2 separate regions of the Homo sapiens genome follow, and region 2 is linked to region 1. The links come from fine-mapping of genetic effects on gene expression. A gene starts in region 1. The other region holds a variant in brackets. All regions are shown on one strand. Distances are between the middles of the regions. Region 1 holds the start of FOXI1 (forkhead box I1). Region 2 has its middle 21 kb from the start of LINC01187.

Region 1 (5,370 bases):
TAAATGTTGGTGGACAGAAGGCAGTGGAGAGATTTCGCTATATTTGCCATAGCAAGCTTTTCACACTGACCTTCCTTGGCTACTCAACCAATTCTCCATCCCGGCCTCCAATCTCTGAGGATCACATAGACCTGGATTTGACTCTTAGCTCTGCCATTTACTAGTTTATATAACCCTGGAAATGTTACTTAACCTCCTTGAGCCTCAGTTCCTCATCTGTTCAATGGGGTGGTTTGTGAACCTTACGGGGTGACTGTCAATAGTAAGTGTGGCCAGTACAGAGCCTAGTACAGCACCTGCCACTGTTAGTGCTGCTCTGCAGGCACCAGTATTTCTATTGCAAAGTTGGTGAGTCTGTGTGTGGGCCTATGTGTGATAAACAGAAGCCTTAACCAGTGTTCTAGAAAGAGGGTGGATTCCTCGGAGGCTCCTGCTTATGTCTGGGCAGTTCCGCAGTCATGGACCACCGTGGGGCTGGCATGGAGGACCTCTACTGCTTTTCTCTCTGGCATGTCCACCTGGCTCAGGAGCTGTTCTGTACCTAGACCTCGGTGCCCTCCCTGGGGTAGAGGACACCACTGGTGTTGACACTGTTGTAGAAGTGAGGGCTGAATTGGCTGAGCACAGATCCTCCATAGCTGAGCATGTTGGTGGGCATGGGGTTCGCCCAGTCACCCCCACCGCTGTGGTTGCTGAGGTTGGTGAGCGGGGAGAAGGAGTTGAAGGTCAGTGAGTTCTGCCCCGTCTTGTCACTGGGCTCAGGGCTCAGTCCTGGTGTGACCAAGGGGTGGCTCGTGGGGCTCCCCCCGCTCACATAGGCTGTCATAGAGGAAAGGAAGCTGTTAAGGCAAGGGGCGCCTGATGGGGGAGGGGAGGGCCGCTTCTCTGGGGAGCTGGTGGTGCCCCCTGGTGAGGCTCCATCCAAGATGTCCTGAGGCTCCGTGGTCTTGGGGCTGTCCACCGGGAGACTGCTCTCTGTCTTCTCTAAGGCCAAGGAGGCTGTGCTAGAGGAAACATCTGATTTTCTCTTCCTTTTCCTGCGGAAATTTCCATTGTCGAACATTTTCTCACAGTTGGGGTCCAGGGTCCAGTAATTCCCTTTGCCTGATACAAAAGTGAAAGGGGGTAAATAGAGAGGTGGACAAAATGCTTTGCTTCTGTTCCTCCTTATTGTCATAAACTAAAAGCCAAGGTGACAGATGCAGGAAGACAGAGACCGACAGGCAGGGACTGAGAAATGGAGGAATTCCATCAACTGATGAACCACACCACCTCCATCTTTAATTAAGCAGCCCATGACAGGGCCCTTTGGGACTGCAGCCGAGAGGCATGAGCATTAAGGAGTTTGCAATGTAGGTCTCTTTAAGAAGGATGAAGAACTGGGAGCAGGGATGCTGAGGGATTTGGGGGTTGGGGGTTGGAGGGCTTTCAATGCTGAAGGAAAAGAAGACTCAGGAAAACTCTGGGACTCCCTAATAGCCGTAGGCTTGGAGTCTGAAGACAGACTTGAGTCCTGGCTTTGCTCCTCACTGACTGAGGGGCTTTGGAAGAACCTGTTTTCTAGTCTGAAAAGTGGGCCCATTGCCCCTGTCTTCCTCAGGCCCACTGAGAAAGGATCCACACCGGATATGGAAAGGAGCGTTGCAGCTGGGAGGTACCTTCCCGAGGGAAGGCCTGAACTCTTCCTGCTACCGTCTCTCAGCCTGAGGGTGATGGCAGTCCTTGGACAGGACACTTGCCCTCTTCTGGGGACAAACAGGCCTGGTGTTTGCCACCCTCAAATGGGGCAGAGTTGGGGTTCCTTTGAGCTATACCTTGGCTTCCTGCGGTGGAACAAAAGTGGACTTTAATTCTGGGAAATGGATGCATGAGTATTTAATACATGCCTCTCTGCAGGTCTCTGAGTTTTAGAAATGCATCGTTGAAAAGGAAAAGCTCACAATTTCTGATGTTAGAGAAAACTGAGTTCAAATTCAAGCTCCATCACTATCACTTCATTCTGTGTCACCTCTGAGTGTTATTTTCCTAATCTGTAGAATGGGTTTCATAAGAGCTACCCTGCAGGGGTGTCTTCGGGTTAAAGGAGGTTACCTAAGTAGAAACAAGGCAGGCAGCAAAATGGGCCATTAGTGGCTGTTTAACCCAGGTCAGATCCTCTTCCTGGCAGTCTTGGGATGCCCTTGGGCTTTGGTTGGTCCAGTCATTCATTCACCAAAGACTTTCTATGTGCTGGGTGCTGGAGATGCAGATGAATCGTAATTACTGCAGGCGATTAAGCGCTTGATAACACCTAAAACCTTGTGTACATTATCTCATCACCTCCACTGCAGCCTGCAAAGCAGATGCTGTCACTATCCCTGGTTTTCCGATGAGGGAACTGAGGCTCTGAGGTCTAACCTGCCAGAGGTCACTGACTGGGCAGGAGCACAGCCAGGGCTGAAACCCAAATCTTCCCCCAGGCCCATGCTCTCCTTCACTGCTGAGCTCCCCTCTGTCCTGCCTGGTAGCATCCCCCAGTCTTGGGGGGCACAGCCCTAGTCAGAACTTTCTAGAATGGGGTCTTGGGGAGGAAGGAAGTGAGTCTTCCTTGGGGACACCCCCCACACTCAAAGCCTCCTTACCCGGGTCGTCCTCGTCGCGGGGCACCTTCTTGAAGCAGTCGTTGAGCGACAGGTTGTGGCGGATGGAGTTCTGCCAGCCGGCCTTGCTCTTGTTGTAGAAGGGGAAGTTGTCGGCCACGTACTGGTAGATCTGGCTGAGAGTGAGGCGCTTGTCGGGTGCCCCGTGGATGGCCATGGCGATGAGAGCCGAGTAGGAATAGGGTGGCCGCACCAGCTTCATCAGCTCCTCCTGCGAGGGGATGGGCAGCCAGCCCAGGTCGCTCCCCCCAAGCCCCGACACGCTGGGCAGCAGCGGCCTCTGCACTCCATAGGCCTGGGGCAGGAAGGGGCTGGCGTTGGGGCCGGGCAGGTAGGGTGGCGGGGTCATGGTGGGCCCGTTGAACCAGAGGTAGGGGTTGGGGGTGGCCCCATACTCGCCGCCCCCCTCGAAGGAGGGCCGCTGAGGGCTGGGCACGCCCTGTGGGTGGAAGAAGTTCTCATAGTAGAGGTTCATCTCGGGGGGCTCCTGGCCGATGCTGGGGAACTGGGGGCTGCAGCGAGGTGGGGAGGGCGCCGGCAGGTCGAAGGAGCTCATGCTGGGGCTGGGCTGGCCGGAGCCACCTGCCTGGCACCTGCACCCCGGAGCTGCCCCTGACAGGTGCTCAGCAGGCCCGGCCTCCCACTTATACCCCTAGGGCTTGGCCGGGCGGCCCCACCCAGGGGCGGCCACCTGCCTGTGGATCCCAGCCCAGGGCCCGCCCTCCCTCAGCCTCCAGCCCACGGGGAGGGGACTTTCCCGCTGGCGCCTCAGGTCCCCACTAATGACATGCTAGACGGCTTACCAGAGCTGACACGCAGCGCAGCGAGAACGCCCCTCTATCCTCTCTCCCGGCTTTCTCTCCTGTCTTTTCTCACCATCCTCATGATTCCCTTCTTCTTTTTCTCCTTTATTCTGTCTTACTTCTCTCATTTTTTTTTCTGTCCTTCCCTTTCGTCACATTTTTCTACCCACCTCGGTTTCCTTCTCTCTCTCCCTCCTCTCCTCTCTGCATCTCATTCTCTGTTTCTTTCCTTCTTATTTTCTTTCCTCCCTTCTGCTCTGAACTGTGTTTCTTTTCTATGAACTGATCTGGCCACATCACAGCTGCTCATTCCCGTTCTCTCTCTCTCTCTCTCTCTCTCCCCCTCCCTCTCTCCCTCTCTCCCTCTGTCTCTAGGCTTCCAGTTCTTCTTTCCACTTCCATCTCTCGCTTCCATTCTCATTGTCTTCCCGGCTTCTCCCCTTTCTCCTTCTCTTTCACTCTGTCCCTTTCTCTCCACCTCTCATTTTCTCTGCGCCTCTCTTCCCATCCCCTCATTCTCCCTCCTCTTCCCCCCAATGTCCCCTCATTCTCTAACCAACTGCCCCAGCCGGGACTGGGTGGGACACTTTATCAGAAACCCTGTTTCTTGGTCTTTTGAGGTGAGGAGGCACTTTCTGGAGTTGCCAGGAGAGAACCGGCCCTGGAGACTCAGAAGAGGGCGCAGAGGGGCCTGGGCTGGCTTCTGGTGGGGTTCAAGGGGGCAACCAGTCATAGGCACCGCAGCCTCCCCCAACACACACATACACGCACACACGCGTACGCGCACACGCACACACGCGCACACGCACACGCGCACGCCCACACACGCGCACACGCCCACGCACGCACGCGCACACACGCACGCACACACACACGCATATGCATACATGCTGCAGACGGGCAGAGAACCTGAGAATTTGCCTGGAGAGCAGCAAGGCTCTTAAAAATAATAGCAAAAGGGGAAAATGGGGAATCAGTCTTCAGGGAAAAGTGAGAGAACTTGAACAATTCAAGTTTCTTTCCAGCTGCAGGGCAAGCAGGCTCCCAGCTCCTCTCTGATCCAAAGACCTTTCATGTTTCAGCTCGCAGAGGCCCCTGGCATGGAGGCAGCCAGGGCACGAGGAGAGCGCCCGACTCACCATGCCCCAGGCGTCCTCTCTCTCTCTCCCTCAGGCTCCAGAAGCAGGAGCTGCAGCCCCTGCTGGCTTCTCCCTGTGGCTCAGCCAGCTCCTCTCCTATCTGGGCTCCATCCTCCATCTTGTCCCAGCCTCCCCTGGTGCCCCAGGTCAGGCCCTCAGCTTGGGCCATGGGTGGTGGTCTCCCTACTCAGAGGGTAGGCGCTGGCCCCTGACCAGGTTCTGGTAGCAGCTGAGACTTCTCTCTGTGATGAAGCAGATGGGAGAAAAGTTGGGGTCAGCCCCTCTGGTCACCACCTCGCTCCCGCTTGCCTCCTTCTTCTTCCCATCCAGCTTCCTCCCACTTCCTGCATGCCCTACTTTCTTTGAGGCAAGAGAAAGAGGTCACTGACTGTCCCAACTGGAGAGGATGCTCCCCAAAGAATTCTTCCCCTCTCTGCTCCTCTTTCATGGTTATGTGGGGACACATGTGGCAAACATGAATGAGACTGAATAAACTTCATTTTCAGCATATTGGTGCCCAGAGGATGAGTTCCAGGTAACTGGGTAGGAGTGGTCATGTTAGGCCCAGAGGAACCTGTCCCCACCATAAAACAGTGATGAAATGTGACTCTCTGAAAGGCTCTGGCTGTCCAGATGAGGCTTAGAGTAAGGCACACTTTGCAGAGCCAAGCCAGAGGCAGAATTTTTGTTTGGTACAGTTTCTCTATGAGGAGGCCTGGCTTGCTGAAGGTGGAGCCCTGACTTTTCAAAGAGCAGTCACATTGGAGTCCCCTAGTACAGACTCAAAGC
Region 2 (5,370 bases), 72 kb before region 1:
ACGAGGTCAGGAGATCAAGACCATCCTGGCTAACACAGTGAAACCCCGTATCTACTAAAAACACAAAAAATTAGCCGGGCGTGGTGGCGGGCGCCTGTAGTCCCAGCTACTTGGGAGGCTGAAGTAGGAGAATGGCATGAACCCGGGAGGCGGAGCTTGCGGTGAGCCAAGATTGTGCCACCGCACTCCAGGCTGGGCAACAGAGCGAGACTCTGTCTCAAAAAGAAAAAAAAAAGGGTCTATTGAATGTATTTTTTGTCTCTGAATTGTTCACTTTTTTCTAAACACATACATCATTTTTTTTTGTAATGAAATGAAGTTGTTAGAAGGCCACTTCACAAACAAGTCCTCAGTGAATGAAATGAGTAAATGAATGAAATCTGATAATCCTACCATTTGCAATTCACTCTTTTGAGACAGGAGGTGTTTTCCTGTTCCAGATTCTCTACCAATATGCAAATACCCCTGAGTGGAGCTGATAAAGCCGAAATTGTCACTGATCACTAATCTGGGGCTTGTCAGCCTCAGGCCGAGATCAAAATAAGAGTGTGTGAGTGTGTGTGTGTGTGTGTGTGTGTGTGTGTGTGTGTATTTGCGGGGAGGAGGAGAGAAAAGTATCAAGGTAGACATCTCTGTGTGCCTGGCAACATGCTGGGTGTCTTCACACACACCTGTGCACTGAATACAAAAACAGTCCTGCAGGGATCCGATTCACTTCTTTTTATGAACAAGGGCACTAGAGATTAAAGGGTTTATGAACATCTTGCCTAAGGTTCCATAGCCAAAAGCTGAGCTGGATGCGAATATAGGAATCTTGGAGCATCAAGACAGAGTAGAAAGGTTTCAAAGTCCCCTGATATGAGCAGACTTCTGTTTAGTAAAACACTCATGATCATCATAAACGTAGTGATGACAGCTCATATCCATTGAGTCTTAGCTTTGTTCCTTGCTGACCCTCTGCTGAGTACTTCAAATGATTTATTTTAATTAATCCTTACAAGGACCCAAGGATGGGAACCATTATTATTCCCATTTTATAAATGAGGAAATTGAGGCACAAGAAGGTAAGTAATTTGAGGAAAGAAACAAACTCAGAAAGTGAAGAGAAGGATTTTGAACGCACACAGTCTTAACTGTACCACCTGCCCTTTCAACCCCCAGGAGGACAGAGCTGTTCATTACAACAGCCCTGACCCTGGAACTGAGGCCTTGGAACTCTGGTCCAGGGCTCTTTGCACTACACCAGACTGATGTCAGTCCCCAGGTCTTGCTGAGAAACAACAGATCCATGAAGAGGGAGGCTGAGAGACTCACTCTGTGTCCTCGAGTTTGCCCTGACCGACTTTATGGAGATTCCAGGAGTGACTCTGGTCTTGTCTGGGTCATCACAGGGCATTTTGGTTTCACATTCTCCTGGGCTTACTGCTGCTCATTCCTCGTAAATCCAGCCACTGTGCAGTTCAGGCCTGACGCCGCGTGCCTCCAGGGTGGCTGGACAACCTCTTTCAGGGCTTTGTTAAGAAGGCCATCCTCAATACAAAAAATTAGCTGGTCATGGTGGCAGGCGCCTGTGGTCCCAGCTACTCAGGAGGCTGAGGCAGAAGAATGGCGTGAACCCGGGTGGCGGAGCTGGCAGTGAGATGAGATCACGCCACTGCACTCTAGCCTGGGCGACAGAGTGAGACTCGGTCCAAAAAAAAAAAAAAAAAAAAAAAGAAGGCCGTCTCATCTATCTAAGACAGCGTGTGCCAGAATCCAGCCATCTCCTTCCCAACAGAATGATTGTTGTCATTTCTGTCTATCACCTGAAACATTATTTATTTACTATTTTAATTTAAACCGAAAAAACCCTCAAACTTTATTTCTAAGAGGAAATCTCTATCACTGGTTATAAATGGACAACCAGCATGGCCATAAATAGAAGGCTACTGTAAAATGAAGATGATAAAAACAGAACAAAGCCACTCAATTATAGCTAGGCATTGCGGCTTGCAGAAGTGCTATGACTTAGCAGGCCTGCCCTCTGCTTGTTAAAATGAGAGAGCAAGAGTTGCAGAGGCATTGAGACATCCTAGCAGCTCTCAAGACTTTTCAGCTTGATACTACCTGAAGGCCTGAGAAAGAACTAGAGACACCTCCCTCTGCCTGGGGCTGGTGGTTCTGACCTAGCCGCAATGGGAAGCACCGCCTTGGGACTTCTTACTTCCTGATCCTC[G/A]GGTGTTATCTACGCAGCTCTCGCAACCTCTTGAAGGCCTTCTATGGTCATTGGCTTCTTGGGAAATGCTCTTGGCCAGAGGGCTTGTCTTGCCCAGTGATGGCCGGCTCAGCCGCCCTGTGTCTCAGACCGGCCCAGGCCCTCAGCCAGCTCCTGGGGCAACTTTGAGAGCTTTCCAAAGGAAGGGTCCATAAGGGCCACTCACGGTGGCTCATGCCTGTAATCCCAGCACTTTGGGGGGCTGAGGTGGGCGGATCACCTGAGGCCAGGAGTTCGAGACCAGCCTGGCCAACATGGTAAAACCCCATCTCTACTAAAAATACCAAAAAAAAAAAAAACAAAAAAAAAAAAACATCAGCCAGGTGTGGTGGTGGAAGCCTCTATAATCCCAGCTACTTTGGAGGCTGAGGCGGGAGCATCGCTTGAACCTGGGAGGTGGAGGCTGCAGTGAGTCAAGATTGTGCCATTGCACTCCAGCCTTGGCAACAAGAGCAGAACTGCAAAAAAAAAAGATGTGGGGGGTCTATAAGGAGGTGGCATTACCACTAATAATAGTATTGCACCTAAGAAGGGAGTGGAATTAGAGACAAACTCTTTATCTTTTCTGTCACTTGATTTTTTTATAATGACAAAATATTTATATATTGCTTAATAATAAAGACTTTTCTAAGAAAGACAGCCCGACACTCTTTCTTGTCTTGCAAGGGTTAAGGTGTCCTCTCTGGGCATTTGGGAGACAGTTCAGGTGAGCAGGCAGGAGCAGTGGCTGCTCTCCATGATGTGGCACAGTGGGTCTCATGACAGCAGTGCCATCCTCACGGGGCAGGAAACAGGTGTGGGTTCCAGTTTTTTCAGTGCTAAGGAGACAGTGTGACTTATCCTGGAATTTGAATCCAGGCTGGGAACTTGCCAATGGGTGACCTTTGGCAAATTGCTCGACCCCTCTGAGTTTTCGTGGGGATTATACAACCTACCTTGAGGAGTTGCTGTGTACATACATGATGCCCTAACCCACAATGCGTGTTTTGGTGTCTTGGCAGTCAGTACTGTGCCAGGTTGGGCAAATCACTTTTCCTTCCTGGTCCTCAGTCTTCTCATTAACGAGCTGAGGATGTGATTAGATCTGTGGTCCACAACTAGGGCCACTGGTCAAACCCAATTGCCAGACTTGTTTTTTATAGGCCACGGGGTGTTTTCTGGTTAGCTGCCAACATTTACAAATCAGGAGATTGTACATAGGAATCTAGGTTTTGTGTGTCTCCAGAGAAATCTACAAATCTGGCAGTGTTAGGCCCACATTATGACATTCACTGGGAACTGGCTAAGACAAGACTCACCTACTTGAGCTGTTTAGCTATTTAAGTTATTGGGTGTTCAATATTCACAGCAGCTGCAATTAGGAATGAGTTTAGATAGCTGGCCCCAGGTCATACAAATGTGAACAGGAGAGCCGGGACTTGAACCCACGCATTCTGGCTTTGTGTGTATTTATCTCCCCATGCTGCCTCCTGGTCAGGAAGCCAAGAACTGTACCAGGCACTGCAGAGACAGAGGTGGAGGCAGCCTGAGGCTCTCGGGGCTTTCTGCAGTCCTTTCTGTGCTGGGGAGGTGAGGGTTAACCTTACCCTGCTATCTCACTCAGGCCAGAGGCTGCCAGGATGAACTGTGCAAGAACTTGCTGGAGGTGGATGAAGCAAAGCCTCCTTTTCTACTGACAACTGGTGTTCACCCTGATAGCAACCGCTGGCCCTCAGCGGCCCCCCAGGGTGTGCGGGAACCCTGCACTGGCTCTGTTTTGCTTTGGCAGTGGAGCACACCTGCCTCCCATTGCTCCAGCCCTCCTGTTTACCCTGCAAACAGCCAAGTGCTCCACACCATCATTTAGAGGCCAGGGGGCGGCTGCCATGGGGCACCAGGCAGTCCAGTCCTGTTTGAGCTGTCCTGGGACCTGAGGGCTGCACGCGCCCAGAGCCCATTTGCCTAGGATTTAATGGGCCCCCACACCCCTGCTAGCTGCCGGCAGGAGGGAGGTAAAAGGGGAGGGTGCTGCTGGGCTCTGGGTGACTTGGCTCCTACTGAGCCCCATGACCTTGAGCCTCTGGGTCTCAATGCCTCAGTTTCCCCAATATAATCTGCCCTTCCAGGGCTCCAGAGAGCAGCAAGCTCCTGGACTCGGAAGATTCTGGTGCAGCATCTCTCGGGAGCATGGCCGTAGGACCCTGACAATTAATAACATTCATTGTTGTTAGCAGAGCTCAACAAGAGGCATCGGACTAAGGCTTTCAAAACTTGTCATTGAAGTATAACATACTTTCAGAAAAGTGTGCATATCATAATTGTGCAGCTCAATGAATGTTCACACCCCAAGCACGCCTGTGAAATTAGCACCCAGATCAAAAAGCAGAATACCGCCAGCACTCCAGAAAAAGCCCTCATACTCACCCTCCAGCCACAGCCACCATTTGACTGGCATCGTCTCTTTAGTGCTCACCACAATTCCGTGAGGTTGATACCAAATCATTCCCATTTTATAAGCGAAGGAAGAGGGCCGCAGAGTGGTCGACCACACCTGCTAGTGATTAGGCCAAGATTTGAACCCAGGCCCTTTATCTCCAGAGTCCACACCTGAACCACTGTGCTGGGAAAAGCGGCAGGCCTGGGTTAAGGTATAGATAGGGCCTTGTCACACACCCACCCTTGCCTTCTAGGAACTTCCAGGTTCAGAGAACTGAGGTAGAAAGTCTTAACCACCCCTCACGTGTGTCAATGTTGTGTTATTTCTCACCTGTCTGTTCACATTAATAGGAGAGGGACCGTGTCTTGTTTGTTTGCCACTCAAAGCCCTGCCAGATGCCTGGAATGCAGCAGGTGCTCACTAAATATTTATCACACAAGTGAATGAATGAATGAATGAATGAGGGAATGAATGAGAAAGAAGGGAAGGAATGATGGTAGAAGGGAGAGAGGAAGTGGGGGAGGAAGACTGAGGGCAAGCTCTTTCTCCAAATTTTAAGCTCTGCCTCTCTTACCTGCCCGATGCTCGTTACCGCAGCTGAAACTTTGTTATAGGCTTCCATTTCTAAAATGTCTTCTCAGCTCAGCCCTATGCCCCCTAAGGCCACAGTGGCTATTATAATGTTTTCTCCACCTACCTG

What was found. PIP is the estimated chance that this variant, and not a neighbour inherited with it, causes the effect.
Region 2: its variant is fine-mapped to the expression of FOXI1 in whole blood (TOPMed, PIP 0.95).

What each region holds. Positions count from the first base shown.
Region 1 is chr5:170,103,783-170,109,152 of GRCh38, reverse strand. FOXI1 (forkhead box I1) reads right to left here and starts at 3,256. Exons shown (of 2, transcript NM_012188.5): 1 at 2,622-3,256; 2 at 1-1,104. The coding sequence starts at 3,195. The coding sequence ends at 542.
Region 2 is chr5:170,175,844-170,181,213 of GRCh38, reverse strand. No RefSeq gene overlaps it. Among named protein-coding and RNA genes, the nearest start is that of LINC01187, 21 kb to the left of the region's middle. The variant G/A (reference allele first, on the strand shown) is at 2,216.